2 linked regions of the Homo sapiens genome follow. The protein of the gene in region 1 purifies or fractionates together with the protein of each later gene. This does not show direct contact. Each region holds a gene or a part of one and is shown on either strand. Other genes may lie near its edges.

Evidence for each region.
Region 2: the proteins of KITLG (region 1) and ATP8B2 purify together in Homo sapiens (affinity purification with mass spectrometry; 3 studies listed by BioGRID and IntAct, with this or other methods). This does not show direct contact.

The regions. Positions count from the first base shown.
Region 1 is NC_000012.12:88,563,700-88,579,044, forward strand, and holds part of KITLG (kit ligand isoform b precursor), read right to left. Parts: intron 1,694-15,345; exon of another isoform or gene 509-1,693; intron 1-508. UniProt on the Homo sapiens protein: Ligand for the receptor-type protein-tyrosine kinase KIT. Plays an essential role in the regulation of cell survival and proliferation, hematopoiesis, stem cell maintenance, gametogenesis, mast cell development, migration and function, and in melanogenesis.
Region 2 is NC_000001.11:154,329,899-154,345,243, reverse strand, and holds part of ATP8B2 (phospholipid-transporting ATPase ID), read right to left. Parts: intron 14,849-15,345; coding exon 14,790-14,848; intron 14,430-14,789; coding exon 14,316-14,429; intron 14,197-14,315; coding exon 14,098-14,196; intron 13,801-14,097; coding exon 13,739-13,800; intron 13,639-13,738; coding exon 13,566-13,638; intron 13,291-13,565; coding exon 13,220-13,290; intron 12,627-13,219; coding exon 12,547-12,626; intron 11,138-12,546; coding exon 10,979-11,137; intron 10,742-10,978; coding exon 10,653-10,741; intron 7,897-10,652; coding exon 7,700-7,896; coding exon of another isoform or gene 7,570-7,699; exon of another isoform or gene 7,398-7,569; intron 6,501-7,397; exon of another isoform or gene 6,442-6,500; intron 4,391-6,441; coding exon 4,182-4,390; intron 2,765-4,181; coding exon 2,721-2,764; intron 2,449-2,720; coding exon 2,283-2,448; intron 2,132-2,282; coding exon 1,943-2,131; intron 1,792-1,942; coding exon 1,676-1,791; intron 1,352-1,675; coding exon 1,187-1,351; intron 1,123-1,186; coding exon of another isoform or gene 1,102-1,122; coding exon 990-1,101; intron 872-989; and 7 more. UniProt on the Homo sapiens protein: Catalytic component of P4-ATPase flippase complex, which catalyzes the hydrolysis of ATP coupled to the transport of phosphatidylcholine (PC) from the outer to the inner leaflet of the plasma membrane.

The sequences.
Region 1 (15,345 bases):
CCTGTAATCCCAGCAATTTGGGAGACCAAGGTGGGCGGATCACCTAAGGTCAGGAGTTCGAGACCAGCCTGGCCAACATGGGGAAACCCCACCTCTACTAAAAATACAAAAAATTAGCTGGGCATGGTGGTGGGCACCTGTAATCCCAGCTACTAGGGAGGCTGAGGCAGGAGAATTGCTTGAACCCGGGAGGCAGAGGTTACAGTAAGCCAAGATTGCACCATTGCACTCCAGCAGGGGCAACAAGAGCAAAACTCCATCTCAAAAAAAAAGAAAAGAAAAAAGGATGTAGGACACAGTAAGGAAGGAGATGATTTTTTACAATGTATCAGGATAGGAGTACTGGCATCACACTTGTTATTGTTATCTCTATTTTAGAAGATTCTGACTTAACAGTTTTCTCGGTAAATGTAAGTTATTGTGCATTCTGAAATTCATCCTCATGGTAGACTTGGGAAGATTATTTTGCTTTCAAGTTTAAAACAAAAGAAGAATATAGGAAATGTACCTTAAGGCCTCAAGTCTTGACTCTTAATAATGCTGGGAAAATACAGAAAGAAACTTTCTTCTTGGAGCAGAAAAGGGGGAGAGTGGGTAACCATTTCAAGGTAATCCTTTGAGCTTCTTTTCAAAGCAGCTGCTTTGCTGAGGAATCAGAAGGGGATGGAAGAACAAATGTAAACAGGGAAACTGGATAGCAAAGAGATTTTCTCACCATATGGGAGAGAATAGGGATCTACTTCCTCAGGAAATGAAGAGAGGGACTCGTGAGCAATATATTCACTAAATGAAATTTAAGATGTACTTCGGCTGCTGTATGTTTTAAGTGCCAAATCTGCACAAACCATTTTGTACATCTACTTCATTGCTCACCATTTGTGTGTTATCTCCTCTTCTTTATGGTCCTTTTTGGAGCTTTTCTTTGCAAATCAAGGCAGAAGGTAGACTTTGTGATATAATTATATAAAACTGGAAACATTTTATTGGTTCAAGAAATGTTAACTTTTCAGATCTACACCCAAAACCAAGAAGCTTACCTGATTAAAAAAAAAAGGAACACAGATCATGCTCTAAGTTTGTATCATTTTAAACACTTCAGAATTTTTTAAACTTGGCATCAAAGAGTATCCCCAAAATGATATATGTTTTTAAAAGTACATGCAATATCTGTAACATTATTTTAGAGCACTGTATTGTAAAGCAGTAGTATTACTGCCTTGAGTCACTAAGATGATGGCTTCTAACCACACATGAAATTTGAAAACATCACTTCTTGTTAATCCTTCTCCAACTTTCTTCCTCCACGCTTAATCTCTGATCTTATGTATTGAGACATTATTTTTGCTGAACTCCTTAACCATATCTGTTTTAAATACATAAATATCATTCTAATAGAATCATCTAAACCCTCTCATATTGTCATATTTCTGTCTTTCAACTCCTTTTAGACAAAGACTATACATCTCAGTATCCAAAACTACACAACATCCTTTACTTGAGTATTGCACTAGCTACCTATTAACTAGCACAAATTGTTAACAGAATTTTAAAGGAAGCATCTTGAGTGTGGGTGAGCTGGGAAGGAAGAATCCATTTACCATATTTGTAATAGTCTCATGAATTATTATGTATCAAAAAAAATCTCGGCTGGGCACGGTGGCTCAGGCCTGTAATCCCAGCACTCTGGGAGGTTGAGGCAGGCAGATCACGAGATCAAGAGATCGAGACCATCCTGGCCAACATGGTGAAACCACATCTCTACTAAAAATACAAAAATTAGCCGGGAGTGGTGGCACGTGCCTGTAATCCCAGCTACTCAGGAGGCTGAGGCAGGAGAATCACTTAAACCTGGGAGGCGGAAGTTGCAGTGAGCTGAGATTGCACCACTGCACTCCAGCCTGGTGACAGAGCGAGACTCCATTTAAACAAACAAAGAAACAAACAAACAAAATCTCTAGGTGAGAAAATAAAATGTCAACAGTACTAATACTAAGCAAGAAATTAGGAACAAACAGATCAGGTTTGATGACTGAGAGTTGTAAGATGCTGAGAAATTTGCTCAACCTCTGTGAGCTCAGATTCCTCCTCTTGTATCAAATGGAATAATCACACTACCACCACCCTCACAGGTGGGGAGAATCAGGAGACATAAAGTATGTAACACATTTAGCTCAGGACCTGGCACAGAGAATAAGCATCGGAAATCAACATTTTTCCTCTTCATCATCATCAACAATATTCTGCCCTAAAATCCTTTCTGGTTCTTAAGTCTTCATATATCTGGCATTAGCGAGTTTTAACTGGCCCTTGTCATTCAGCCTATTGTGTCATTTCCTTAAGAATGGCAAGCAATGGCCTCACCTTCTCCTTTATTTATTTATTTATTTTTAATTTACTGTCTCCATTCTCTTCTACCACCCAAAGTGGCTCATTTATCATTTCTCTCTCTGAGGAAAATTCTGTTTGAACAATGTATGTATGTTTATACAGGACAGTGTTACATGCAGTTTCATGTGTCTGCTGAGGTCAGCAGGCACAAAATTGTCAAATGTCTGGATCCATTCTTAGAATGCTGACAGGTGGATGTTGTCCCTCAAAGAGACATTTGGCATTAAATTCATAGTTTAGTTCAGAAAACCTTTATCAATATTTTGGCACTGTGCCACTAGCTAGGGATACCAGTGTTAGACAACTTAGCTAGGTAAGTAAAAAAATAACTTCAATATAATGTGATAAGTGATATGATTGTTTTTTTAAATGCTACAGGAGCTCAGGGTAAGATCACTAAACAACATAGTAGGGAGAGGGGCTGAGGAAAAAGAGCAAACAAAAGTCAGGGAGGACTTCCTGGAGTAGAGACCATCAAAGCTACCCAAATGCGAGGCCCTCAGGGCCTTGGAAACCAAGTGCAGCAATATTGGTATGTCATTGTACATAGTTAGGTGACGCTGGAATGAAACTTACCACTCGGGAGTGGTGGAGATAAGCAACAGCCAAACCACAGAGGACCTTGTATAGTGTGCTGAGGGTTTGGACTTTATCCTGAGGGTAATGTAAAGTCGGTAGAGGATTTTAGCCAGGGTAATGACACAGTCAGACTTCTGTTAATAACTCTAGATTGTGTGCATTAGAAAGAACCTTTAAAATTATAGGATCTACCCCTACATTTTGATGGACAATAAAATGGACATCCTGAAAGCTGCATAGCAATACAGTACCACATACATGAATTTAGGACATGGATCTCCTGCGCTGTCAGTAAGTTCTTGTTCTGACTTTCCTGTATTACTCCTCAAATGCTAGGACACAAATCTTCAGGGAAAAGTGCAAAAGGAATTCCTTTTTAAATCTAATTCTGTTCCTAAGCAATTCACAAAAATTACACATGTCAGTGTTTCTACTACATTCTCCTTTAGGCCTTAAAAGCAGGGACTTTAATATATATATATTTGTTTTTCTTTTTCAATATCTAAAAGAGATTTCTGCATTTTAATATTGGTTCAAAGTGTTGTGTTAGATCCCACTCTGAACTGAACCCAAAATTACTTCCCACATTTTCCGGCTTGGTAAATTAATCACTGTGGTATCCACAATCAAAGATTCAATCAAGAAACTTCCAGAAAACCTTTGGAAACAAACTTTGTATTACAAAAGAGTTATAAAACAGGAGCTGTTTTCTCTCTTTCACAAGTGTTTTGAACAAATCAGCACTCCATCAAAAAGAACATAACAGTTTAATGTTCTGTCAAAGAATGGAATGCTTGTTTACCTGAAGTAATGGACTGATAAAAGTAACTTGCATCTGTCTTGATTGATACAAAACTTACTCAAAGATGAATCTGGACAACCAAGCCCTTAAACTAAACAGAGTCACTGACAAGAAAATAAAACCTGAATTCATAATGGAAACATTTCCAAACTGTTGATTCTATAAAGTTATTAAATTCAACACATGCAAAAAAAATAAAAACAACAAACGAACAACCTTTGAATGCAAAACTGCATTTTATTTGAAAGGAGCTAACATTTACCGAGGTTTTCTGGTACCTGTCCTAATGCCCTTCTTATGCATTAGCTCATTTAATCCTCACAGTCACCTTAGGACTTAGACACTATTATAAACCTCATTTTACAAGTGAGAAAATCAGAATGTTATCCGAAGAATCAAGTGACTCAAAGTCATACAGTTTGAAGAGATGATTCCAGATTTATGAGTCTCCAAAGCTATTCATGATCATACTATACAAAAACTAATTTGAGGCTCATTTTAGAAGACATTAATAAACTAAAGTTTTCATGTACTTGGAAAATTTATATTTTTTATTGCTCAAGTCTGAGAACAATACAACAACACTAGGCCTCTGAATGGACAGTATAGTATGTAGAGCACTGCTCAGTTAATTAACTCTCTTGACTTTCACAACTTGTGAGGTCGCCAACATGTGTCAACATCCTTACAGACACAGAGCAGACAGTCTAATACATACTGATGTGTCTGCTGGCATAATCCATTCCCTAAAGCTTACAGATACAATTTATTGAGCATCACTTCTGGGTCAGACAATTTCCACATATTATCTCATTTATTTATTTATTTATTTATTTATTTATTTATTTATTTATTTTATTTATAATATTTTTGTAGAGACAAGGTCTCACTATGTTGCCCAGGCTGTTCTCAAACTCCTGGGCTCAAGCAATCCTCCTGCCTCTGTCTTCCAAAGTGTTTGGATTGCAGACATAAACCACCATGCCCAGACTATAATCTCATTTAATTCTTGTGTTCTTCCAACTATGTACTATTACCCCTACAACCCCATTACACCAATGAGGATATTGGGGCCTAGAGGAAGGAAATAAATATCATGTTGTAATCATAATAGTGGAGCTAAGATTTAACTCTCATTCTGTCTAACTCCAAACCCCATGCTTCTTCCAGTCTACACAAGGCCAATGAGCCAAACACTTTGAGAAATATAATTTACTTCTTAAAATTAGAGCAGGAAACCGTGTTAATTCTGAAAAACATTGTTTTCTAATAGTACAATTATTTGAGTGATTGTGAATCGTGATTACAAATTAGGTATATAACATTATTTCCAGGTTTTTAAAAAAAAGAAGGGAAAGAACAAGGAAAGAAGGGAGAGAAAAAAGAGTGAGGAAACAAGAGAAGGAAGCTGCAAAGTATTATTCTTCCATTTTACAGAAGTTTAAGAGAAGGTTAAGGAAAGATAAATAAATTGCCTAAGGTCCCATGTCAAGCTAGAGTCAAGAGCCAGAGGTAAAATCTATATGCTTTTGACACAAAAGCCATGTTCTTTCCATTTTCTTTTGACAAGTGGCTATATTTCTATGGATGCTGAAAATGACTTCACTCATATAGGGAAAAGTAGGCAATCACTCACTGATTCAAAATGGGAATGACTCATGTTCTGTCCCCCTAATTCCAGGTAAAGCAAAGAGCTTGGGAATGCGAGCTCTGAATCCGAATCTGTTTCATAAGCCAGCCACCACATATTGGTGCCGCGATCTTGGGCACATGATAGAAAGAAGTAACTTTGCTCTAGGTAAACTCTTTTGTGATTCTAATTATACACATTTTTCTTTTTCAGTTTTTGTTTTAAAAAAAGAATAAAAACAACTACATTACTCAGGACAAAAGTGAATTTGAGGCTGGAGTTACTTGGATAAATTGCTTCAACTTTCCCTTTCACTCTGGTAGTGGAGATTTTGCAGTTAAAGTCACTTTCTTTAAGAAAGGAGCCATCACTATTGATAAGCATTACATTACCATTTGTTTAATGGTAATAGCAAGAGTAAATGTTTATTTAGTATTTTCTTGGTGTCCAGCACTGGACTAAGTGCTTTTTTGTGGATTATTTCATTTTATCCTTATAACTACCTATGATAAATGTACCATTGCTCATTCTGTTTGGCAGATGGGGAAATTGAGGCTAAGAGGTTTTCGTTCTTAGGCAACCAAAGCAGACCATCTGACTGCAGAGTTTGGTTAAGCACATCTCTGTTCTGTTGTCTCCTTTACCTGTGTTGAGATGATGCCAGGACTTTTTAGCCAACATTTTCATTTGTACTAAACTGCTATTGAGTATGTTACAAGGTGATGCTGCTGATAAGGTTGTGCTGACAATCACCCATTTAAAATCTTGCGATATTAATGCAGAAAATATTTTTTTTAATATTAATGCAGTTGGATTGATAAGAAATGAACAAAACAAAGGCCACAATATAAATGGCTGGTAGCTTTAAAAGCCAGACATAAACGACATTATTATCAAATAATTTCCTAATATGATCACAGACATTTAAAACCATCTTCCAAAACATCATGTAAAGAGGATCAGAGCAAATTGATAAAAGTACTTTCTGAAGTATCTTTCTATTTCCAAGAAGTTATTTTGAAACATAACTTTAAAATATTTTAAAATCTGCCCTCTGCCAACAAAGTACCACTTTATTTGAAAGACAGAAAGCTTTTTGGCAATGAAGTAATTCCTGATTCCATAAAGTAAGACGACATCTTTAGAGTTTACAATGAGATTCCCTCACAACAGTCAGATGAGTCAGGCAAGGGGTTTCCATTTGACTGCTGGGGAGATGGGTGGGAAAGCCTGATGAGGAAACCCAGGCTCCCTGACCTGTGGGAGTGTTGCTCACATACAGCCATTTACACTTCTGGTAAGTACTGAGGAGTGTGGGGTCAGAAGCAACTCATCACTCAACCAGAGGACTCAGCTTTGCCTGCTCTCAGTCTTTCTGGTGTAAAGTTAAATTGCATCTTCTTCTCCACAAATAAATTAGAAAAAACAACAACAACAACAAAAAAAAAACAAAGAAGTTCAACCCTTTCAGTTTGTATGTGTATGCATGCGTGTCTATATTGGTGCATTATATTGTAGTGATTAGAAGGAATCTGGCCTTTAGATTTAAATAGGCTTGGCTTCAAATACAAACTCTTCCACTTGCACTTTTTAAATTCTCATTTTGGGCAAGTTTTCTTAATCTCTCTGAACTTCAGGGTTTTTATTTTTCTTTGTTAAAAAAAATGATGCCAAATAATAATATGTATTTTACAACATTTTGCTACAATCGAATGAGATACACTTGTGCAGTTTGTGGCATGGTGTTTCACCCATGGGGAGTAATTCACAGTTATTAACTTATTAATTTGTCTTATATTTCCTTATTCAGTAAGCTGCTCTTACTTCTTAAACAGCTTGTCTTTGGCCTACTTTGTTATTTCTTTTCAACAGAAAGGGGAGAAAAGTAAAGAAGATAAAATTGGGAAAATTTTCTAAAAATTTGCTAAGGGTGTTTATGAGTGTCAAATAAGATAGATAACGTATAAATAAGAGAGTTAAGCTATTAGTCTCTAAGGATTGGTTTTAATTTTTTTATTTATGAAAGCCCTATAGCCAAAGCCAGGAATTACTAACACTGAAGTTATTTCTTACAGCATACAGATTTGTATAATGTTCTGTGTGATTTACTATTCTTTTAGAGAAGGAAACAATGCTCTATTAAGTAAGTGCCAGTTGCTGTGATGTTAGACAGTCTATCTCTTTTAATTATCACATCAATACTACTACTAGGTGGTTACTTCTGTGCCCATTTTAAATATTGAGAAAGTGAAGTTCAAAGAGAAAAACTTACTGGGGTTGGTAAGTGGCAGAACCAATACTACATTTGATCTATATCCATTCAAACCTTTGCTATTCTCTCACATTGTCTCCAGTTTCACTAAGTAAATGATGTTATGCATTCACTGAAAATTAATGCTGTAAAATAGTAAACAAAGTAGCCTTGCCAGTCATGCACCAAACACATTTGTGTGTATAACAGACCTAGCACAATTGTTAAAATTTTGCCATTAGAAAAAAGGCTTATAAAAAATGTATCAGTATCTAACAACCTGAATTAGGTCTCCATTCATTTCACAACATTCCAAGTGTATTTACTGAGCAGTTGGCAGGAGCCACTCTTTGAGGCAACTGCAATCATGAAATTTTTGTTGTCCAAATTCTATTACTGGCAGCTTTTTTGAACATCTGAGTTGCATTTGTTTTTGATTCAATGTTCATGTAAACAGAATGCATATCTTTGAGGTATTAAATAAGCCACACTAATGCGCTGTGGTTAATGCCAGCTGAGTCTCTTTTGCAATAAACACCTGGGATTGGCAGGAGAAAGACCTTGTCTTAGTTTTCCTATCTGTGAAATGGGGTTTAAAAAAATAATAACTACCTCTCAGCGGAAAAGTGCTGTGAATTAATTAATCTTGGAACTGTTTTCTACTAAGTGCCATTTTGGCATGATCTATTATCAGGATGGTTTGATTTTATAATATAATGATAGAAGCTATTTAAAATGGCTACACATTTAAATGCCAAACACTTGACACATAGTACAGTAAATTTCATCTCTTCAAGTTGAATCATTATGTGTGACATTTGTACAGAAGTGCAAACAATAAATGGTCAAATCAGTCTTGGATTTAAAAGTCTCATTATTGAAAAATATAAATAAATAAATGCAAACGGCTTAGAACAGGTCCTGACATTGTGAGCATTATATAAGGATTTGCTAGTATTATTAGAAGCTACTTATAATTTTAAATTAAAATTAGCTACAGTCATATGTGTATCTATATATGAAATAAATCAAGCAAGCCTAATAAATGCCTAAATACATTTTTTTCTTAAAGACCCTAGTTTCATATTTTAAAAAAAGGTACATTATTTTTAAAGTATTATTAAAGCATAGAGTACTGTGGCTTCAGTACATTACAAACAGGAAGTAAAGTTTTAAAAACACTTTTCTGGGCAGGGGCTAAGAATAAATATAAATATGTACATTATATATATATTATATACATTATTATATATATATATATATATATATAATTTGTTACAAAGATATTGGAAGAATTATGTAAGCCCTATTTTGTAGTTCAGTGCTTTTCTACATACAATTAATGTCATCCAAATAGTAAAAACATTATGCTAATAATTTCCTCTGAATTTTTCATGAATGTTGCCTAATCCCTTTATTATCCCCTCATTTTGTTTAGTTCCCACTTTGGACCACCTGGAAGTAGAAAGCACCAGCCATTCTCCTATACTGTGATAATGTATCTTTCAAACAGCAGAATGACAAATGTGCTAAGGTCAGTCCTCTGACTAACAGAGCACATCAAAGATTTATGAGTAGGGCCCACGGAATACAGCAGTTTTCTAAAGTTGCGAGAAATCCAAACTAAAGCAATCACAGAGCTTTTGGTTGTTCATCAAAAAAGGAAATCCCTAATGTGTTTACTATTTCAGAAGCGTTAAATTGTACATTTACACAGAACCATAAATAATGATGTATGACTGCTGAGGTCTGTGTTGCAATCCTTGGGTTTTCTAGATCACATTAGAAACAATTTTATATGAAAACATCTCTACCCTCCCTTCTTACCACTCCTCCATCTAGAGTTCTGCAGTGAACATGAATTTTAACAGCCAGTACATCGATATGGATAACACATCCAGGAGGGTGACAAGGCCTTTATAACAAAGCACACTTTCTCTGTCACACTCTTCTTGGAAGCCAAAGAATCTGTGTGTTTTCCCAAGGCAGTTGTTTGGGAAGGCACTGAGAAAGGAACTCCAAGTAAACAGTAGAAAACTCAGCACTGTAGGGCCCTAAGAGGTTCCTTCACAATAGACCACCATTATTCAGTTGTATTCCTTAGAGGCAACCTGGTTCACTGCCACTCAAATACTCACATTTAGGTGAAACAAGCCAATAATGAGATGCAATTCAGCCCTGGAGCAGAGTGAAGACATTGAAAGGGAAAGGTCCTCAGCTTTAGGGATTTTATGTCAAGGTGAAAAAGAGGGAAAAGTTCTAAGCACTCACAGGGCTTATGTTCAGCAGATGAACTTCTGCTCCTGAAAAGGCAACACAGTATGGGCATACAAGACAAACACAACGCCCCCCTCCAACCTGTGCTCTTTCTTCCCAGGTTTGCACAGGGATGCAATTATGCAGTGGGGATGCCCTTTCTGCAAAGGTGAACAAGGCTTGCTTTTTCAAGTGAGCACCGATGAGTTTGCGGTGGTCCTTTCATGTCCTTTTACATGGTCACCCTAAAGAGCAAAGGCATTCTTTGTGAGCAACAGACAAAGTTTGAGCTGCTGTCTGTGTACCTGGAACACAGAAAAGGCTACCTTATTGCCCCGCTCCCTCCCAATTTACCCATGTTCTAATCAGCAGCATTCAAGAGCCCCAGGGCAACAGCTACAGGCACAAAGTCAAGTGCTGAATTTCTGCATCCAAATATCCCAATAATAGCCATTGCTACTTTTTTTTTTTTTTAAATTTTCTAGACTATTGCCTCAATTCTAAACTTTGTTTTAGTGGATAGCTCAGTGGGCAATGCCAGTGATTAGAGAAGAACATTATCTTCATGGTTGTGGCCCTGTTTTCTGAGAAATGTGTGTTCTCCTAGCTTGAGGAGGGTCCAGCTGATCTTGGAATATTCTCATGTCAACAAGAAAAGACTGCCATAGCTTCTGACTGCTAAAAGAAAAAAAAAAAAAGAAAAAAAGAAAAGGGCTACGGCTAGCTGCTGGGTTTGCTCCAGCTCTCAGCTAAGGAAAGGAGGTAAGCAAGCACTGTTCCAAGGATGGTACTGGACCCAGACAAAAGCCAGCCAAGGAGAGATTTGGCATAGTATCATCTGCAGGAACTGCCTTTCCCTGAGGCTCCCTCCTCTTTCCACCTCCGTGTCTCCAGCTGCAGCCTCTCATCTTCACTATCTTCTCAGGATTAACTATCTTGGGCATGATTCAGAGATACTAAGACTGGGAGACTAGTCCAAGGTCACACATCTTGAGGCAGAGCAAAGGGTAGGATCAGTTCCTCTGATTCTCCCCTCAGTGCTCTTTCTACTACATCATCAGATCCCTTCTTGGTTTTCTTTCTCCATTTCAACTCCATGCACACACGTACTGGAAGTTAAAGGGACAGAAAAAAAACAGGCAAATACAGGGAAGCATTACCTTTTGTAAGCTTATCTCCTCTGGTTAGCTGACTTTATCTTAGAATTCTTTTTCATAGAACTTAAAAATTTAGAACAGAGAAAGTAAAGATCCTCTTTAACTATGGATTTTGCTAAAACAGGAAAGTGTAAATACCATTCTTTTTACAAAGAAATATCAAGCAGTAGGTGAAATGCATAAAAGTAGAACAGTCTAAATTTAAATCTCCTTCATTTCTCCCCATTGGCTTATTCATAATCATAAAACAATGGTTATAATGTGCATTCACACTGAAGCAATGGCTGCATAAATCTGAGAACTGAAGGAAGCTTAAATACCATCTGGTTCAAATATCTATTTTACTAGTACTTTAGAAATAGAGAATTTTAGAACCAGAAGGCACTTAGAAATCACCTAGTCTCACTTACTCATTTTACAGTTGAGCAAACTAAGATCTGGAGTTCAAATAATTTCCCAAATTACTACTACTTATTATCCAGGTTAATAAAAGAAATCAGCCTCCTAATATCCAAGCCAAAGTGGCAGCCTACAAAAATAGTAAAATGTAGCCAAAGGACAAAGACAGGTACATAAAGAACAGTCTTCCTTTAGATGACACACATTATGATTTTAAAGAAAGAACCATGAGCCCCAACTATGAGAAAATCACTCCCCCACCTCTTTTTTCTATAGAGAAAGAAATAGGTAGAGATGAGATCATGACAATTCTCTTAAACTCCCAGCCCCTGTAAACAGTTTTTAGTATACCCATAATTAAGTGAAAAGGCAAACACATCTTGCTGCATCTATAAATCAGAAAGGCTGCAGTCAATTGTTTCTATGAAACAGAGCCTATACAAAACAACCCTGAAAGCAGCATATATTATAAAAATATCTTGGTGTTCCCTCAACTTGTTTTGTAAATTGTTCTGTCTACACACGTGACTAAGACCAAGAACAGTGTGTAAGACCAAGAACAGTTTCTTGCAGCTGCTCATGATTTATGTGCTAGAAAGAAAGATAAAAGATCACTCTTCAGAGATTTATATCCAAATGCCTTGCCCTAATTTACAAAAGGGAATAAAATTTACAAAAGGGAATAAAAATAATTTACAAAAGGGAACATTAAGATAATCCAGAAAAGAAAAATAAAAGTCTCAAACTAGCATAATGAAAAAAAAATGTCACTGCACGTTGCCTGGTAAAGACAACAAAGACACCCCACAGAAATGAATGCATGGCCTCACTCAGAAAAGCAAGTGCGAGAACATTAGGGATGGGAAACTAACCAAGTCTCTTTAGTCCAAAATAAAATAAAATAAAATGAAATAATTCCTTAGAATCATACAAGGAGAACTTAGCAAGAGTGTAGAAATATGAAACTGAGTCAGCGATAAAGATAATATTTCCATTTTCCATTTCTATTTTCTATTCTAATTATCTCATTCATTTGTACTTTAAAAGAAAAACCTTCAAAAACGTAGCACCTCTTAAGCCCACATATCACCTTTGTCTTCACATATTCCTGGATTGATGTGTCTTAATTATAGTCTATAAACAGATATTAGCCTATCATGGGAGTCACCAAATCGACAGACGTAGATTTAGGAAAACTTGGTCTCTGTGCTTGGTTCATTAGGCATAATTTACCTGCAATAAGTCAGTTTTTCTCTGGCTTGTAAAAGTAGGCCAGCAGGCACTCTCTTCTCAGGAACAATAAATTCAAACTGTACATATAGTAAGCTACTATGCTGGTATAAAGACACATATAAAATTTCATTTAGTCCTTAAAACCACCATGCGAGAAAAATCTTTATAACTTTTATAATCATCATACAGATTACAAAAAACAGAAATCCCAAAAAGTTTAACAAATATTTGCCTAAGGTCATTTGTCTCATGAGTAGTAAAACAGGAATTAGAATCTAAGTCTTCAGAAGCTAGAACCTAGAATCCTTCTACCAACCATATTTTAGGTGTTTCTCATATATGCTCAGATATGGTTTATTCTCAGATATAAAGCGAAGGCCACATGTAGTGGAATTTGCCAATCCATGTAAAAAACCTCCAATACCCACACTTGCTATTTGAGTGAGAAATTTTTATGTGATTTATGGTGATGGAAACATTTCAGTCACCTATTATTAAAAAAAAAATGTGACCCAGAATTTGCTATCTTCAAATCAGCAGTTAGACGTAAATAAAATTTAGCAATTTTAATTGGTTTGGCCCAGACTTTCAGATTTCCATATGGTTATTTTCCTTGTTTTATGTTAAATGTAATCAACTTAGCACTTGGGTTTTAAAGTCTTGGCAGAATGTATCAATTAAAAGCTACATAAATTGGAATTATTCAAAGCATACATTCCAAATTGAGTGATCTTAAGGACAAGACTAAAAAAATGCTCTTTTCATAAGTATGTTAATTTTCTTCTACAAAGTAAACTTGCATCATCACCCACATGACAAACTTCATACAGACATAAAAGAGATATTTTCTTTGGAGTAGTGAAAATTAGCATTCTATTTGCTTATTCTCTGAGAGTTAGTATGCCTAAAATGGCCTTTTTTACATTGTTTGCAAGATCAATCTTTCTTATCTCAGTATTTCTGAAATTGACAGGAGTTATGACACTTCTCACAAACCATCCCCAAACTAAAATGTAAGCACAACATTGATAAATGTAACACCAGGCACATTAAGCTAATGGCACTTTTAACCAAATCTTAATCAGTGTTGCAAAATATGGTGCCTTGATTGTTATCCAATATGGTGTATCAGAATATTATGTTTAAAAAATAGTTACACATTGAAAGAGATGTTTTTTCTAAGCCCAAGCCACAAACACCTCTAGAAAACTGTAAAACCACACAATCTGAATAAAATAAAATCAAACAGAAATCTGAAAAATTCAAAAGACATTCATTTCTGTAGAACTGTGCTTAAATTTATTGCCTGTGTCATTATATTGGAAATACTGAAGTGTACCAACATGCTAAATGAATGAATCATTCATCAAACCCCAAGTGGTTGTTGATGGAATTTTCACACTTACTTAGCTTGACGGAAAGGCCAGAATACCTGGAGTCCCCATGATTCTTGGAGAGCTGTGTAATTCAAATCAAACCCCATTTTAAAATATTACTATAAATTTTTTTTATATGTGGGGTAGTAGGAGAGTACAGAACAAGTTGCTTTATAATAGAACCATGGTATTGATGCCATGTTTATAAATGACTATTTAAACTACTAAATATTAATAGATATTCTTCCCTGGTGAGGATAACATTAGAATCAGAACAATCGATCCTATTTCTTAATGTCCAATTTACATAGGCTACCTTCCATCCATGCAGCATTGCACAGAAAATGTCTTTGTAATTTTTGGATTAGAAAATTTAACAATATGAAAGATCTAATCCCCTCCTCCATTTCTGCAGATTATTTTATTGATTTTGGGCTATTTCCAGTGTCCCCTTTTTCAGTGACTGTGGAATCGCTAGAAGTATTCTTAAAAAAAACCTTGAAGGTCATTAGATCCTAGGCAATGAATGCCTTCATTCAACAAGGGTACTGCCCTCCTTTGCCTACAAGCCGTTTAACATCAGCAAGTTCCCCCAAAGGGCCTGCACTTTAACTTGTGTGATGTGTGACCGAACAGGTCACATATCTAAAATACTTAGCTTTCTCAAATTTCTCTGGTCGGCAGCACTGAGTCACTAATGCCACAGTCACAATGTTTCAGACTAGATTGACCTCTTTCTAGTTTTCAATGGAATTATTCCATGTAATCCGATTTACACAGCCATTTAATCAAAGCGAGAAAGGAGATTACAGAGCTCACATTTGTTTTGCAAAGCAAGGGTGCAAGGATAATCAATCCTACTGCCTCTCAAAGTGACTTGATAGTACATCCCCTGGCTTTGGAGTGTTGGACATTAACCTTATCTGTCTCCTGTGTTCTTGTTTAAATAGGAAGGTTTAGGCTCTTTTCCTGAACTAGAAGGTAGCAGCTTCTTCCCCCAGATCTCACCACCATCCATGGGAGCAGATGCTACTATAAGAAGGAATAGGTCTCTACCCTTCTTATAATTTCGCAGAAAGCTTGTCTAAATCAAGAGATTACAATAAAACTTTTCTTTTGTTGCAAGAATCTTTAACATTTGCATTTCGACAGCACGCTGTGGTGATTCCAGGTGCGGTGCTCAATGCCTTGCCTGAAAGCTAACCTGCTTGTAAGAGAGGGGAGAGGCACATCGCGTCTTTTCTCTTAGAGAGTGCTCTAGAGACTATGCAAGC
Region 2 (15,345 bases), on another chromosome or scaffold:
TTCCCGTCATTCTTCTGCAGTCCAGAGACCTCAGTGGGCCCCTCCCCAGCCTCAAGCCCAGCCTACACACCTGCACAGCCCACACTCACTTTTGATCATGCTGACATCATTGGCTCCGTCTCCAATGGCAAGCGTCACAGCCTTCTTGTACTTCTTGACCAGTTCTACCACCTGTGCCTTCTGCAAGGGGGTCACCCGGCAGCAGATGACAGCTTTGCAGGCACACGCTGTCTCCAGAAACTCCAGCTCCATGTCTGCCTCCAGTGCGTGGGCCTGGAGCACAGAGAAACCTGAGAGAGCCAGTCTTTCCAGGAGACACCTGGGAGTCTCAGCTCCTCCCAGTCCCCTTTGAGACCAGTCTTCTCTGAAATCAGGGGAAATTAGAACAAGATATAAAAGCCCTGGACAGAAGTGCTCACTGGAAAGATACTGCCCAAGCTAAGGATAGCGATGCCTACCAGGCTGTGACCATTTATGACCAGGGCGTACTCCCCAGCAACGGCCTCCAGGACAGAAGTTAGCTTGGAAGAAGAAAGCTTGTCCTGATAGGTGAAGCCGTTGCCTACGGAGCGGGATGAGTCCATCATCTTCTCCCGGGCTTTCCTGTCGAGGTGGAAATGATACGGTTGTGGTCTTCCAGAACGGCAGTGGGGAGCAGGGATTCAAGTCTAAATGGTCCAGAAACCCCCACCTGAGCCCTGGGCACAACGCACAGCACCGCCTCCCCTGGGCTTCTTGTTTACCTGAGCTCCTCCCGCACCTCCAGGACAGTATGGCCAGTGACTATGAAAACCTCAGTCATGTCATCCGTCAGCATCTTGCAGGAATAGCCGATGTTCACAGCCGTCTCTACCAAGAGAGAACGCAGGAGCTACGGACAGGCACCCAACAAGGTCAGCACACTTGCCTGCCTGATGTCCTCGGCTCCATGCAAGGGTCCAACAGGGCTACTGTCAGTTGCAACTGGCTCTGCCCTGCTGGGCTCTCACCTTGCTTGTCTCCGGTTAGCACCCAAATCTTGATGTTGGCCAGTGTCAGGAGGGCAATGGTCTCTGGAACCCCTTGCTGAAGTTTGTCCTCAATGGCCGTTGCACCCAGCAGCTGAAAATACCACAAGGATTCCTGGCACAAGAATTGCAGGCATGAGCCCTCCGTGCCCATCCTTGGCCCGTCCCGCAGCCCGTACCATCATGTTGTTCTCAACCTCCTCATAGATGCTAGCCAGCCTGTCCTCCCGGCTGTCCTGGGCCAGGCTGGCCTGGAGGCGTCGCTCAGCCCACTCCTCGTAGTACTCTTCATCCAGATCCTTGTAGGCCAGCACCAGGGTCCTCAGCCCTTCCCCTGCGTACTCCTGGAGGCAGAGTGGAAAGGCACACCTGGGTAAGTCTGGAGAGCTAATGGACAGCGTGAGGGCGACAATGAATAATCCTGCACTGTAGACTGGGTGTGTGCCACATTCCACAGTTAGGGACTGTCACCACATACATAAAAAGAGGTAACTATGGGAGCTGGCTGATGTGTTAAGTTGTCTGACTGTAGTAATCACTTCACTATATATACACATCAAAACATCACGTTGTAGACCTTAAATTTACACAATAAAACAAACTTAAGTCGCCTCCCCCACACTAAGAGTAGAACCCCCCAGGCTGGCCCCTCCTCTCCTCACACCCACATTAAGGTGGTCCATGGTGGTGTTGAGCAGCTCTTGAGTGGAGTGGTGCAGTCTGTCCAGTAGGATAGTGTCAGCCCCTTTGCAGTAGAGTCGGATCTTCCCCTCTGGATTCCGCACTATGAATGGGGCAGGTGAAGAAAGTGCCAGAAAAATTCAGACAGGCAAAGACCCCCAACATAAACACATCAAGAGTCACCCGGCACACTTCACCCATTCCAGGCCTGAATGCTGTCCCCAAACGCCCCAGCACCCCAGGCCTGGCCTCACCTATGACCGACATCCGCTTGCGGATGTTGTTGAAGTCCAGGATGGCCAGCAGCTGGTAGGTGATGGCTGTGCCCATCTCATGGACGGTGATTGTTTTGGGGGTGCGAGAGCGGAAAACAAAACCAAAGTTCCTGGCTGCGGTGACCAGGGCCCCCTCATCTGGGGACTGAGCTTTGTAGTACAGCTCTCCTGGGTGGGGAGGAAGAATACACGTGATATAAGTGGCTTCCCTCAGCCACGTGCCCCGCCCAGGAAGCCCCAGCCCAGCCGCATTGCAGAGCAGAGCAGAGCCCAAGGGCAGAGTCAGGTCAGGAGAGTGCGAGCCGGCTCCTCGGCCCACCTTCGTTCTTTTCTTCTGACATGACAGTATGACACAGGGAAAGGAGGCGGAAGAACTCATGCGTGTGGGGGTCCCCGATCTTGACAGCCTCCAGCAGGCTGGGGTCCCAAAATAAGAACTTCTTGTCAGCCAGAGGATTGAAGGAGAAGTCAACAGGTTCAGGCCTCTGAAACACATAAGAAGGCTCTTAGGAAAGGCTAGAGTGCCAGGCTGCATCCCGGGGAAGGGTTCATCCCTGCCCTCCCAACTCTCAGTAGGCTCCTGTCCACGGTGGACCTCAAAATTTCCACTTCCGTCATCACCAGTTCTGCCTTAAAACACCCATTTCTCCAAGCAGCTTCCATTTCCTATCCAGACAACACATCACTCCTGACTACACTGTTACTGGCCAGGCACCCTGTTTCACTGGCACATAGAATTAGGGAGACTGAATCTTACCTCTCCCAATTCAGCTTTGTGTCCCAGGACGTCAAACACATCACCTACATACAGCCAGGGCAGAAAAAGAAGCAATGTCAGAGCCAGAGAGCTCCAGAGCATGGAAAAACATCTCCAATGCAGAATCCCCGTAGGCACTGAGCCCCTCAACCCTAATCGCTGAGCAGCTGTCACAGTGTGAGTCACTCAGTCACATTGCTGACTCGCGGGATAGGAGGCATCAGGCACCCTAGATTCCAGAACCCCAAGGCCTGGCCATGAAAGAGCCCCGGCACCCACTGCTCACCATCCCTGTCTCTACCCTAGGCGGCACCCCCCTCAGGGCAGCTCCAATTCCACACCTCCCAGGCCTCCTTGCACCCATTAGACCTGAGCAGCAGACAAGGCTCAGACACTGACCGAAAGGCATCAGTCAGTACAGAAAGCAGTCACAAGAGGGGTCCACACTCTGCATAAAAGTCAGCCCCACATGCTGCCCCAGGCCATCCCAGCAGCACAGCCACGGGCCACACTGGGAAGTCCAACCACAGCCACATTCCACAGACTCACAAGGACCCTGAGCAGCAACAGGGGAGAGTCTAGCAGGGTTCCGCCTGGCCAGGATGCCCAGAGGCCAGTGTCTCACTTCAAACAGCCAAGGAGCTCCCCTAATTCCTGGAGCTGAGACCAGGGTCAGGGCATCAGGAGAGGACAAGGGGAGGACTCTCAGAATCTAATTTTTTTTTTTTTTTTGATAGACTTTCACTCTTGTCGCCCAGGCTGGAGTACAATGGCGCAAACTCGGCTCACTGTAACCTCCACCTCCTGGATTCAAGCAATTCTCCTGCCTCAGCCCCCCGAGTAGCTGGGAAAACAGGCACCTGCCACCACGCCCAGCTATTTTTTGTATTTTTAGTAGAGACGGAGTTTCACCATGTTGGCCAAGCTGGTCTCGAACACTTGACCTCAGGTGATCCACTGCGCCCAGCCAGGATCTGCTTCTTGACATGGGACACAGAATGGACCTCTTCTTTGTGTGTGGATTTTTCTCGAGAGACAGGGCCTCATTCTGTCGCCCAGGCTGGAGTGCAGTGGAAGATCATGGCTCACTGCAGCCTTGACCTCCCAGGCTCAAGTGATCCTCCCATCTCAGCCTCCTGAGTCACTGGCCAGCTGAGACCACAGGTGCATGCCACCATACCTGGCTAATTTTTAAATTTTTTGTAGGGATGTGGTCTCACTATGTTGCCCAGGCTGGTCTCGCATTCCTGGGCTCGAGCAATCCTCCCACCTCAGCCTCCCAAAGTGCTATGACTATAGGCATGAGCCACCGTGCCTGGCCAGGATGGACCCTTTCTTCTAGGCCCCTCAGACCCAACTAGGAAGGAAGAAAAAACCAATGTTAAGGAAACTGTGGGGCCCCAGTTCCACTGTCCTTCCAGGCGAGGTGCAAGCCCCCAGTCCCCAGTGGTGCCACCATACCATAGCTGTGGCCATTGATGGAGCACTTGTTGAAAACCATGATGTTCTGGGTGAGGGTGCCCGTCTTGTCGGAGAAGATGTACTCCACCTGGCCCAGCTCCTCGTTTAGGGTGGTGGTGCGGGCTTCTGCAGGCGTCCGCTTCTTCATGCAGAACATCTTCTTATCCCAGTTGATGAAGTAGCTGTGGCCCAGACGGATGACCTCCACACTGCACAGGGGACAAGAGGTGAGGCTTGGGTCGGGAAGAAGAGGAGGTGCCCCACCCACATGGGCCTTCGCTGCAGGCCCTCCGCCTGGGGAGAGACAAGAACGGAGAAGACACCTGGGCACAGAAACCTGGGTGGGAAAGGGCAAGGAGAGCCTGAAGGTGGAGCCGGCTGCACACAGCCAGCAGAGGAACGCCCCGACCCGACCCTCCTGATGCTCTCCAGACAAGAAGGTGCAAAGGGCCTGGGTGGGCAGGACAGACAGCAAAGGAGGAAAAGGGGCTGTAGACAAGGCACTCGGCCAGTTCTTACCTCAGGACTAATAATACAGAAACCATGCAGAGAAAAACAAGAGAAAGTGCCAGAGGGAGGGGAGAGAAAAGAGAGAGAGAAATAATGAGGGTGCTGTGCATGCCACAGCAACACAGACGCCACCTCAAAGAGGGGTGGCACCGGGGAGGGGAAATGGAGAAGGCTTGAAGCCCACTCGTCACTGTCCCACCACAGGCTGGGTGCGCTCCTTCCACCCTGGGCTTGGGGCACTACATTCCTGATTCTGAACACCGGGCAGGGCTGAGGTGCTGACTCCAGAGGGAGAGGGCCCTGGGCATCTGCAGAACACCACCACTTCACAATGGCACAGCGCATTGTGGTGGTTGTTGTTTGCTTGTTTGTTTTTTGAGCTAGGGTCTCTGTCACCCAAGCTGGAGTGCAGTAGTGTAATCATAGCTCACTGTAGCCTCAAACTCCTGGGCTCAAGCAATCCTCCCACCTCAGCCTCCCTAGTAGCTGGGACTACAGGTGCACACCACCACACCTGGCTAATTTTCATTTTTTGTAGAGATGGGATCTCGCTGTGTTGCCCACACTGGTCTTGAATTCCTGAACTCAAGAGATCCTCCCGCCTCCACCGCCCAAAGTGCTGGGATTACAGGCGACAGCCACCATGCCTGGCCCCTATAGTGCCTTTAACATCTCCAGGTCTGTTCGTATCCTCTTCTTTGCTAATCATATGCACTGTTAGCATTTCCAGAAAGGGCCATGTTTAGGTCCAGTGCAGCCGAGCAATGGGGCCCTATCGAGAGCCCTGCTTCCCACCTGACTAAGGCACCTATCAGGATCCCATTACCAGGCAAATGGGAATGTCTTCACATTCCAAAGGGCCTTTTCCTCACACAGCTCTTCAACCCCCTCTTAGCCTCCCGAAACATACACACTGTGACCTGATGAGACTCAGAAAGAAAACTGCTTTAGCTGCTCCCAAGGGCTTCAAGTGAACTGAGATACAAAACACAGATAGCAAAGCCCATAGGTGGGAAAACAAAATTAGGTTGTAAGCACAAAGGCATTTAAATAGTAATGCAGAAGGGAGTGGCAACAGTCACAATGAGCAGGCTACCACCCAGTAACTGTACAGTCACTTAAGTTTAAAATGTATCTTCTAAGCCAATATCTTATATCAAGACATCCTATTAAAAGGTGAGACAAGTACTCCTGTTCCTGTTTCACGTGGGAAAACTAAGATCAAGTGAGGCCCTGAGTGACCGTGGATTTTCCTGAGGTCACATGGCCAGTGAGGAGGCAGGACTAAACCCAGAACCTCCCAACTCTCCTCTTCACACCCTGGAAAAGCCTAAACTATATTCTCTCAGCACAGAAATGCTGTATCTTCTATTTATTATCACCAGCAGTAAGATTGGGGGCTGGGAGAGAGTTGAGGGCTATTTGGGGAATCTGTATGAACAAAAGATGGGAGACAGGACAAGTTTTCAGCACCTCCATAAAACATTTCCTTAAAAATGTCACAGGTTCCCTTATCTCAAGTGCAAGGCACTAAGCAAGAAAGTTCCTTTCCCCTGGCCATTCCTCCTGCCTCGTCTTCCTCCGATCCTCCCCTTCATTCTCACTGGCCTGTCCCTGCTAACATTCTCTTTACCTCAAACATCCTACATGTTGCCTTGATCCTATTCATGCTGTACACTACTGCCAGTCAATACTTCCTAAAGCATTCTTTAGTTTTTTTTTAGAATGCATTTTTTTCTTTTTGTGGGGGAGGGGTTCCAGTGAAAACTGGAAAACCTGCTAGACAAATTCTAAAAGAGCTGTAACACTTAGAATGCATTTTTAGAATACAGAATACATTCTTTTGACTTTCTTCAAAAACTTTTTTGTTTGTTTGTTTGTTTCGTTGTTTTTTGAGACACAGTTTCGCTCGTTGCCCAGGCTAGAGTGCAGTGGCGTGATCTTGGCTCACTGCTACCTCCACCTTCCGGTTTCAAGCGATTCTCCTACCTTAGCCTCCCAAGTAGCTGGGATTACAGGCAACCACCACCACACCTGGCTAATTTTTGTATTTTTAGTAGAGACGGGGTTTCAACATGTTGGCCAGGCTGGTCTCGAATTCCTGACCTCGTTATCCGCCCACCTTGGCTTCCCAAAGTGCTGGGATTACAGGTGTGAGCCACCGTGCCCAGTCTTTTCAATAACTTTTAATGGTTAGTAAATACAAAGTCCACAGGCAAATATTCAAAAGCCTCCACAATCAGGAGCAAGCTATGTTTCCAGCTCTTGCTCTTGGCCCAAGACCCTGGCCAACTATTTCCATAGGCCATTCCCAGGCTCCCATCTCCACACCTTTGCTTCCAGCCCTCTCAGCCTCCTCTCCATTGTGGCTCCACCTTCATCCAGCCCAGTCACCACTCAAAGCCCAGAGCAAATGCCATCTCTCCCTCTCTGCCTACCTGCTTAGGGAGCGACACTCTCCCAGTCCCCGGGCACCCTGTGCCTCCCACATGGTATCTCAGTCTGACACTGTCCAGATCTCCCCTCCTCGACCTATCCATCTGCTGCTGCTAAAGGCAGAGGCCACCTTATACATCTCTGTATCCCCAAGCTTCACATAGAAGACTCTAGGTCGAATTCTACAGCACTGGTTCCTATTTTGTTTTATAATGTGTTTAGATTTTCCTTCCTTTACTAGACGTAAGCTCCTAGAAGGAAGGAGATCCATTCCTAATTCATCTTTTATTTGTGATGGCACCTAGCACACTTCTTTGTACACAGTAGGCATGTAATAAATAGGTGCTGAATAAATCAATATTTTTTTTTCTCTAATACAGTCCCAAGTACCAGGAAACTGTGGTAAAAAGTTTGCTCTGCCCACAAAGATAAACAGATAACATCAAATGTTTACAGTACAGGAAGAAGAGGACTTCTCGTTACTTCTCAAGGACTTCATCTTCATAGAAAAGAAAAGTTCTATGGGACCGCCTGACTCCCTGGAGAGACCCCAGGTCAGAGAAGGCACATACCTGACATAGAGTGAAATGGGCACAACGGTGTTGAGGATGATGATGTAGGACCAGAAGGAGAGGAAGCCAGAGAAGAAGGCACTGTCCACTGCCTCATCCCACGGCAGGTAGACCTGGAAACGCATCCCCACCTCGTGCTCCCAGATGGCATTGCCAATGGCCAGGATCACCCCCATGCAAACCAGGAATCCAAAAATCTGGGGAGGAATGAGAAGCACAGGCGAGGCTGACATGTAGGAAGCCCTCAAAACCAAGTGCATCTGTGATGTATTCATCCCTTGAGCCCTCAAAAGCTCAGATGCTCTAGTGCAAGCTTGTCCAACCCATGGTCTCTGGGCCACATGTGGCCCAACACAGATTCATAAACTTTCTTAAAACACTATGAGATTTTGGTAACAGCTGAATGTTAAATGAAAAATAATTATAAAAAAAAAAAAAACTATTATGGGCTGGGCGCAGTGGCTCAAGCCTGTAATCCCAGCATTTTGGGAGGTTGAGGCGGATGGATCACCTGAGGTCAGGAGTTTGAGACCAGCCTGGCCAACACGGTGAAACCCCGTCTCTACTAAAAACATTAAAAAAATTAGCCAGTCCTGGTGGCACTTGCCTGTAGTCTCAGCTACTCAGGAGTCCAAGGCATGAGAATTGCTTGAACCCGGGAGGCAGACATTGCAGTGAGCCAAGATCATGCCACTGCATCCCAGCCTGGGCAACAGAGCAAGAACCTGTCTCAAAAAAAAAAAAAAAAAAGGCCAGGTGCAGTGACTCACACCTATAATCCCAGCACTTTGGGAGGCCAAGGCGGGCAGATCATGAGGTCAGGAGTTCGAGACCAGTCTGGCCAACATGGTGAAACCCCATCTCTCATCTCTACTAAAAATACAAAAAAATTAGCCGGGTGTGGTGGCGGGCACCTGTAATCCCAGCTACTAGGGAGGCTGAGGCAGGAGAATCACGTGAACCCGAGAGGCAGAGGTTGCAGTGAGCCGAGATAATGCCATTGCACTACACTCCAGCCTAGTGACAGAGTGAGACTCCGTCTCAAAAAAAAAAAAAAAAAATTTATGAGATTTTTTTTTGCAATTTTTTTTTTCTAAGCTTATCAGCTATTGTTAATGTTAGTGTATTTTATGTGTGGCCCAAGACAATTCTTCTTCCAATGTGGCCCAGGGATGCCAAAATATTGGACACCACTGCTCTAGTGGAAAAAGCTCAGAACTGGTGACAGGTTCTAGTCTGTCACCAATTATCATGTGGCCTTCTGTCTGACCATTATTTCATCTATATGATGAAGAAACTGAAATAGTTGATTAGCTCTCAATCTGGCACCTTGAAACCTTCCAGAGTCCTCAAAGTTGGTAAGAGTGGGGATGAGCTACTTTTAACATACCAGAAAACTTACTGTAAATAATCTATTCACCTGGGCTAGGTACAAGCCAACAAAAATGCCAAGCCACGGTAATGTTCACTATCTCACATAGATGGCCTTTTTTTTTTTTTTTTGAGATGGAGCCTTGCTCTGTCGCCCAGGCTGGAGTGCAGTGGCGCGACCTCGGCTCACTGCTGCAAGCTCCACCTCCCGGGTTCACGCCATTTTCCTGCCTCAACCTCCCAAGTAGCTGGGACTACAGGTGCCCGCCACCACGCCCAGCTATTTTTTTGTATTTTTAGTAGAGATGGGGTTTCACCATGTTGGTCAGGATGGTCTTGATCTCTTGACCTCGTGATCCACCCACCTCGGTCTCCCAAAGTGCTGGGATTACAGGCGTGAGCCACTGCACCTGGCTAAGATTGCCTTTTTTTTTTTTAAACTTGGGAAACAAACTTATCTTCATAAACGTAGATTTCTTTTTTGAAACAGGGTCTTGCTTTGTTGCCCAGGCTGGAGTGCAGTGGCATGATCCTAGCTCAACGCAGCCTCAATCTCCCAGGCCAAGCAATCCCCCCGCCTCAGCCTCCAGAGTAACTGGGACCACAGGTGCATGCCACCAAACCTGGCTAATTTTTCAGTTTTTTGTAAAGACAGGGTCTCACTATGGTGTCCAGGCTGTTTTCGAACTCCTAGGCTCAAATGATCCTCCCACCTTGGTCTCCCAAAGTGCTGGGATTACAGGTGTGAGCCACCACTCCTGGTCTAGATTTCCTGATTAGTCAAAAATCTTATAAATTTTGGAGTCTCTGGAGAGACTGGTAAAAAACCAGGCCACTGTCCAATTTCCTACATCTATTTCCAAAGCTGCCTCCGCTGTTTAGGCTTTGAAACAAAATAGGAGATTGGTGCCCAATGGCCACCAGGGGGCGACTGGAGCCCTTATGTGATAGACAACCTCGCCCACCAGGCTGGGTTTCCGCACACTCTTTAAAGCCAGGGCGGAAACAAGCTCACCAGAGGCTAGCCCCAGCCTTCACAAGCTGGCATGTGGCGGGCAGGCAGCAGACAGTCGGGGCACAGGAAGGGGAGGAGAGCCCAACAAGGAGTTCAGATTTCTAGCTAAACAAGAGAAGGATTCAGGAACTGCCAAAAACTTAAACAGAAACTTTTCCTTTGGGATCCTTCGTTCTTAGAAGTTGGGGGGAAAAGACCCTGCCAACCTCTTCCAAATGGAAATTTTTCTTTTAATTCCCTCTCCATCCCCATGAAGGCCTCCTTGTCCCTGGCAAAAGCAAACAGAAGGTCACATGCTTCACAAAGTCATCATCATAACTGGAATCAGAGAAGGGATGATTTGTTTTAGCTTTAAGTTGTTGATTCATGCACGTTCCTGAAGTTTTTTTAAATAACATCTTCCAACTAAAAGGAGCCTAAAATAAACACTGCCTTTGTGTAGCTGACCTGCTAGCAGCTTTAAAGCCAAACCTGAAGTCTACTGACCAAAGAAGAAAGAGGAAAGGAAAAGGAGCACCCAAGGAGAAGAGAGGGCAGGGGCAGGGAGCCAGATGTGGGGCGCCTCACCCAGAGCACCAGGGTATTCATTAGGCGATCGATACTCGTTCTTTTGAACTTTGTTCTGCCGCTGTTTTGCATCAGCTTAGTGTCGGGACCTGGAAAAGAATGGGAAGGGCTGGGAAAGCCAAATAACACATCTGCCTCTGGGCTTCTGCCCTGATCCCCAGACTGCAGGACACCAGGGTGGAATAGAGATACTGGCTAGATAAGAAGCCTGTATACACAGCTGGAGGTTTTTTACCTTAGGTATTCTCCCACCTCATCCCATACTCCTGAGTGAGGGCTGGCTGAGTCACTCTTACCCTTCTTTCTTTGGATGCTAGGAGGCTCACCTGCAAAGATGACCAGCCCGAAGCACCACTCGGTGTTTCGCAGCACACAGCCCCGCAGCAGCATGTTCTGGTTGCTCAGAGGGAACTTATTTTCCTTCCAGTAGAGGGTTCCGCTGAATTTGTCCAGTTTGTTGTTGGGAGGTTCACAGATCACTTCACCTGAACAGGAGACAAGAATTCCACTGCTTAAGGTCCAGTCTACAGCCTAACCACAAGACAATAAAACAAAGAGAAAATGAGCTGAGCGAAGAGGATGCAAGGGCAAGGGCCCATCCATATGCTGCTGGGAGGAGTGTGAGCTGATGCAACTCTTCAGGAAAATAATGAAGCAGGCCGGGCGCGGCAGCTCATGCCTGTAATCCCAGCACTTTGGGAGGCTAAGGCGGGTGGATCAGCTGAGGTCAGGAGTTTGAGACCAGCCTGGCCAACATGGTGAAACCCTGTCTCTACTAAAAATACAAAAATTAGCCGGGTGTGGTGGTGGGAGCCTGTAATTCTAGCTAATCGGGAGGCTGAGGCACGAGGATCGCTTGAACCTGGGAGGTAGAGGATGCAGTGAGCCGAGATCGCACCACTACACTCCAACCTGGGCAGGAGTATTTAAAAAAAAAAAAAAAAAAAAGCTGCAGCATGACCTAATATTTGTTTGTACAAACATGTATGAAAAGTGTGGATGAGCACACACTGACTGTCAATTAATGTGGCTACTTCAGCAGGGTAGAAGAGGAAGGAAGAGCTATTTTCTTCTTCTTTTTTTTTTTTGAGACAGTGTCTCACTGTGTTGCCCACGCTGGAGTGCAGTGGCCCGATCTCGGCTCACTGCAACCTCCACCTCCCAGGTTCAAGCAACTCTCATGCCTCAGCCTCTCAAGTAGCTGGGACTACAGATGCACACCACGACGCCCGGCTAATTTTTGTATTTTTTTTTTCTTTTTGAGACAGAGTTTCGCTCTTGTCACCCAGGCTGGAGTGCAGTGGCACGATCTTAGCTCACTGCAACCTCCGCCTCCCTGCAACCTCCGCCTCCCAGGTTCAAGGGATTCACCTGCCTCAGCTTCCTGAATAGCTGGGATTACAGGCATGCAGCACCACGCCCAGCTAATAATTTTTGTATTTTTAATAGAGACAGGGTTTCACCATGTTGACCAGACTGGTCTCGAACTCCTGGCCTCAGGCAATCCGCCCACCTCGGCCTCCCAAAGTGCTGGGATTACAGGCGTGAGCCATGGTACCGACCTCTATTCACTTTTTCTTATACACTCTGTATGGTTTGTCTTATAAGGAACACATATTATTATTCTGAGCTAATAAGCTAAAAGAATAAGCTGAATTTCTCTCAACATGCATAGCAAGTGGGGAGCTATCAGCCACAAAGTCCCCTTGAAATAATTATAAACTCAAAACCAAGAGGGAGCCACATGACATTACAAACACTCCCCTCCCCAAAACAGTCCAGGGAGTTGCATAATAACAACAAAAAGCCCAAAGGAAAATGTATAATTTAACGCCCCCAAACAAAACCCAACCCCACTCCTCTACCTTCAGGCTGCTCCTCCAAAATTACTCACCGTCAAACTTGGCAAGCTTACTGATGTCTCCCAATTCTGAGGTGACTGGAATCGCCTGACGTACTTTCATGTTGGTCTCGCTGGAAGGACAGTATCTCTGAGTCCCCGCTCCCTCCTCATCCTCTAAATGTTTTTTTTCACAGATGGGGTCTCGCTCTGCTGCTCAGGCTGGAGTGCAGTCGCACAATCATAGCTCACTAAAGCCTCGAACTCCTGGGCTCAAACAATCCTCCCGCCTCAGCCTCCCAAGTGGCTGGGATTATAGGCATTAAAACCACCATACCCAGCTAAGTTTTAAACTTTTTAAATTTTTTGTTTGTTTGTTTTATAGAGATGAAGTCTCACCATCTTGCCCAGGCTGGTCTCAAACTCCTGGCCTCAAGCAATCCTCCCACACTGGCCTCCCAAAGTGCTGGGATTTACAGGAGTGAGTCACCATGCCCACCTCTCCCCATCCTCTAAATTCTACCTGGTGACACCTAAGCATGGTGCATAACTGCTCAGCCCAGCAAATACTGGTTGAATAACACTTCACACATCCCATCCAAAGCCTTTCTTACCCCTAATTTTTCCAAATTCAGACAGAGCCCAGGCCTGAGAACCTCATTCAAAGACAATCTTTTTACCTCCAAAGAGACAGAAGGAGAGGGCTGACACTGAGCATGCCACTTACCCATCAAGTTCTGCTGTCTCTATGTAACACAGCCCATGGGGCTCACTGCTGGAAAGGAGGAGGAGATCCGCCTAGAGAGAAAAACTAATGAGAAGTCCAAATATGCAAACCTCCACCCCCAGTGGGCTGTAATGGTGGCTCCTTCCACTAAGCATTCTTGGTTTGCTTAGTTCCAGGTGCATAAATGGCTAGTTCCAGGCATATCAGCATGACACAGAAGCCCCTGGTGTGAGAAAGATTCCTGCCACGGGTGTTTAAGAGGCAACAGTAAATCAGGAAAGATTCATCCTTTTCTCACAAAGAAGAGGAAGAACCTACAGGCCTAGAGGGGTACCCTGTCCCTTACCGCCACAAACTGGTTATTTTCTAGCTTGATAATATCACCAACACAGACATTCATCCACTGCTCCTGCTGGAGGCTGAGGCAACGAGAAGACAGTGAAGAGGCTGTCAGGAGCTAAAGAGGTTCCTAAGGGACCCCCTTCGTCCCCAGAGCTCTTGTCTCCAACAGGCACTCACATTCCATTGATCAGCACCTGAGACTGGCGGTTATTCACCTGGTTATCGCTCTTGTGGCGGAACTGAAAAGAAGAAAACTGAAAGGTAAGACACCTTCCCCCGCCTCGAAGGAATTCGTTGATCAGTAGAACTCAGAGCATGCTGGTTAACGCCTCATACACACCCCATCACAAACCAGTTCACTCCCTGATTCCCTCTCCCCACGCTCAGCAAAAAGACATCATGGATCTAGCTGGACCGGGTAAGGGATGTCAAGGTCACCAAGAAATTGTGCTGGATGAAGGTGGCCATGAGATGGGGGTGGGGCTGGGAGTAGGGGTGGGTGACTGGGACAAAATAGAAGAATGAAAACCACTCACATAGTCATCAGTGGCATCTTTAACAGCTGTGATGGTGAGGACAAGAACCAAAGGCACAATGGTGGTGAACCAGGACAGGGAAGAGATCTGGGGGATCAACTGAAAAAAAGAAAGAGAAGTATGCCTCTGAGGCCCCATCTGATGCCTTCATTCCCTTTCCTCTTCCTTGGCTTTATTCAGTTTGGGGAGCTGCAAAAAATCTACTATGGGTCACCTACCTGCAGAATGAGGAGGAACAGGAAGTAAGTGTTGGCAACTTCCTGGAACTGCTCAAAGAGGTTGACAGGCAGGAAGGTGAGAATATTGTACTTGGAGGTCTTGATGCAGTTACTCTATGGCAGTAGGAGAGAAGATAATGAGCAGTCTCCAGTCCCAACCCAGAACCAGACTGAGGCTGCCTCCCCCATCTTTATACTTCCCCAGACCTCTACCCCAAAAGCTAGCAAACACAGGTGTGGGAGGGGGAAAGAGGAGGAGAGAAGGGAGTCTCAAGGGGGTCAATGTATTCTGCTTCACTGACAGGTGAAGGCATGAAAAATTCAGCACGATAGCAGATGGAGAGTGGCTGAGGAGGTTGCTTCCCCTCCCCCAAGCACTCTTCCCAGGCAGCCCTCAGTCCCAACGGTAGGTTGTCCTTGCCCCATTCCCCTCTCCAAACAGAGAGAGGGAACAGGTGGTCTAGAGTCGCTTACCGCATACTGGAATTTCTCATTGTATTCTCGGTCATTAGCCCGCGCCCTCCTTTCTTCTTCTGCAACAAAATGATGCTGCAGTCAGGAGGAGCAAACTGAGGTCTGGACCAACACTTTGCTGGGGGGTTCCCTGTTTTTTTCCACAGAATATCATTTTAAGGAGTTAGCTCCACAACTGAGGGGGTCATCAAATTCTTCCCTCCAGTCCACCTCTCACCAGCAGCCTGACCACACGGCTCTCCAGGTTACATTCACAGGACAGGACATGTTCTCTTTTCCTCACCACCAAACTTCAAGGTCTTCCACTGGAAGCACCCAGTTTGTCTCCCCCACCCCCACTCCAGAGGAATCTGAGCCACTGACAGTCCTGGGATTCCCCAGCCCCTTTTGCTGCTATTACTAATGCATACATTGTCATAATCAAGGAGTAGCGCTGAAAACGCAAAGCTTCCTTCCCCCTGGGGACCACTGCAGATCTAGTCGCGGTACTGCTCTCTCCCTTATTTAGAGAGTGGGGTAGGTGGCAAGAAGGAGGCTCCCTGTGCCCTGGAGCTGC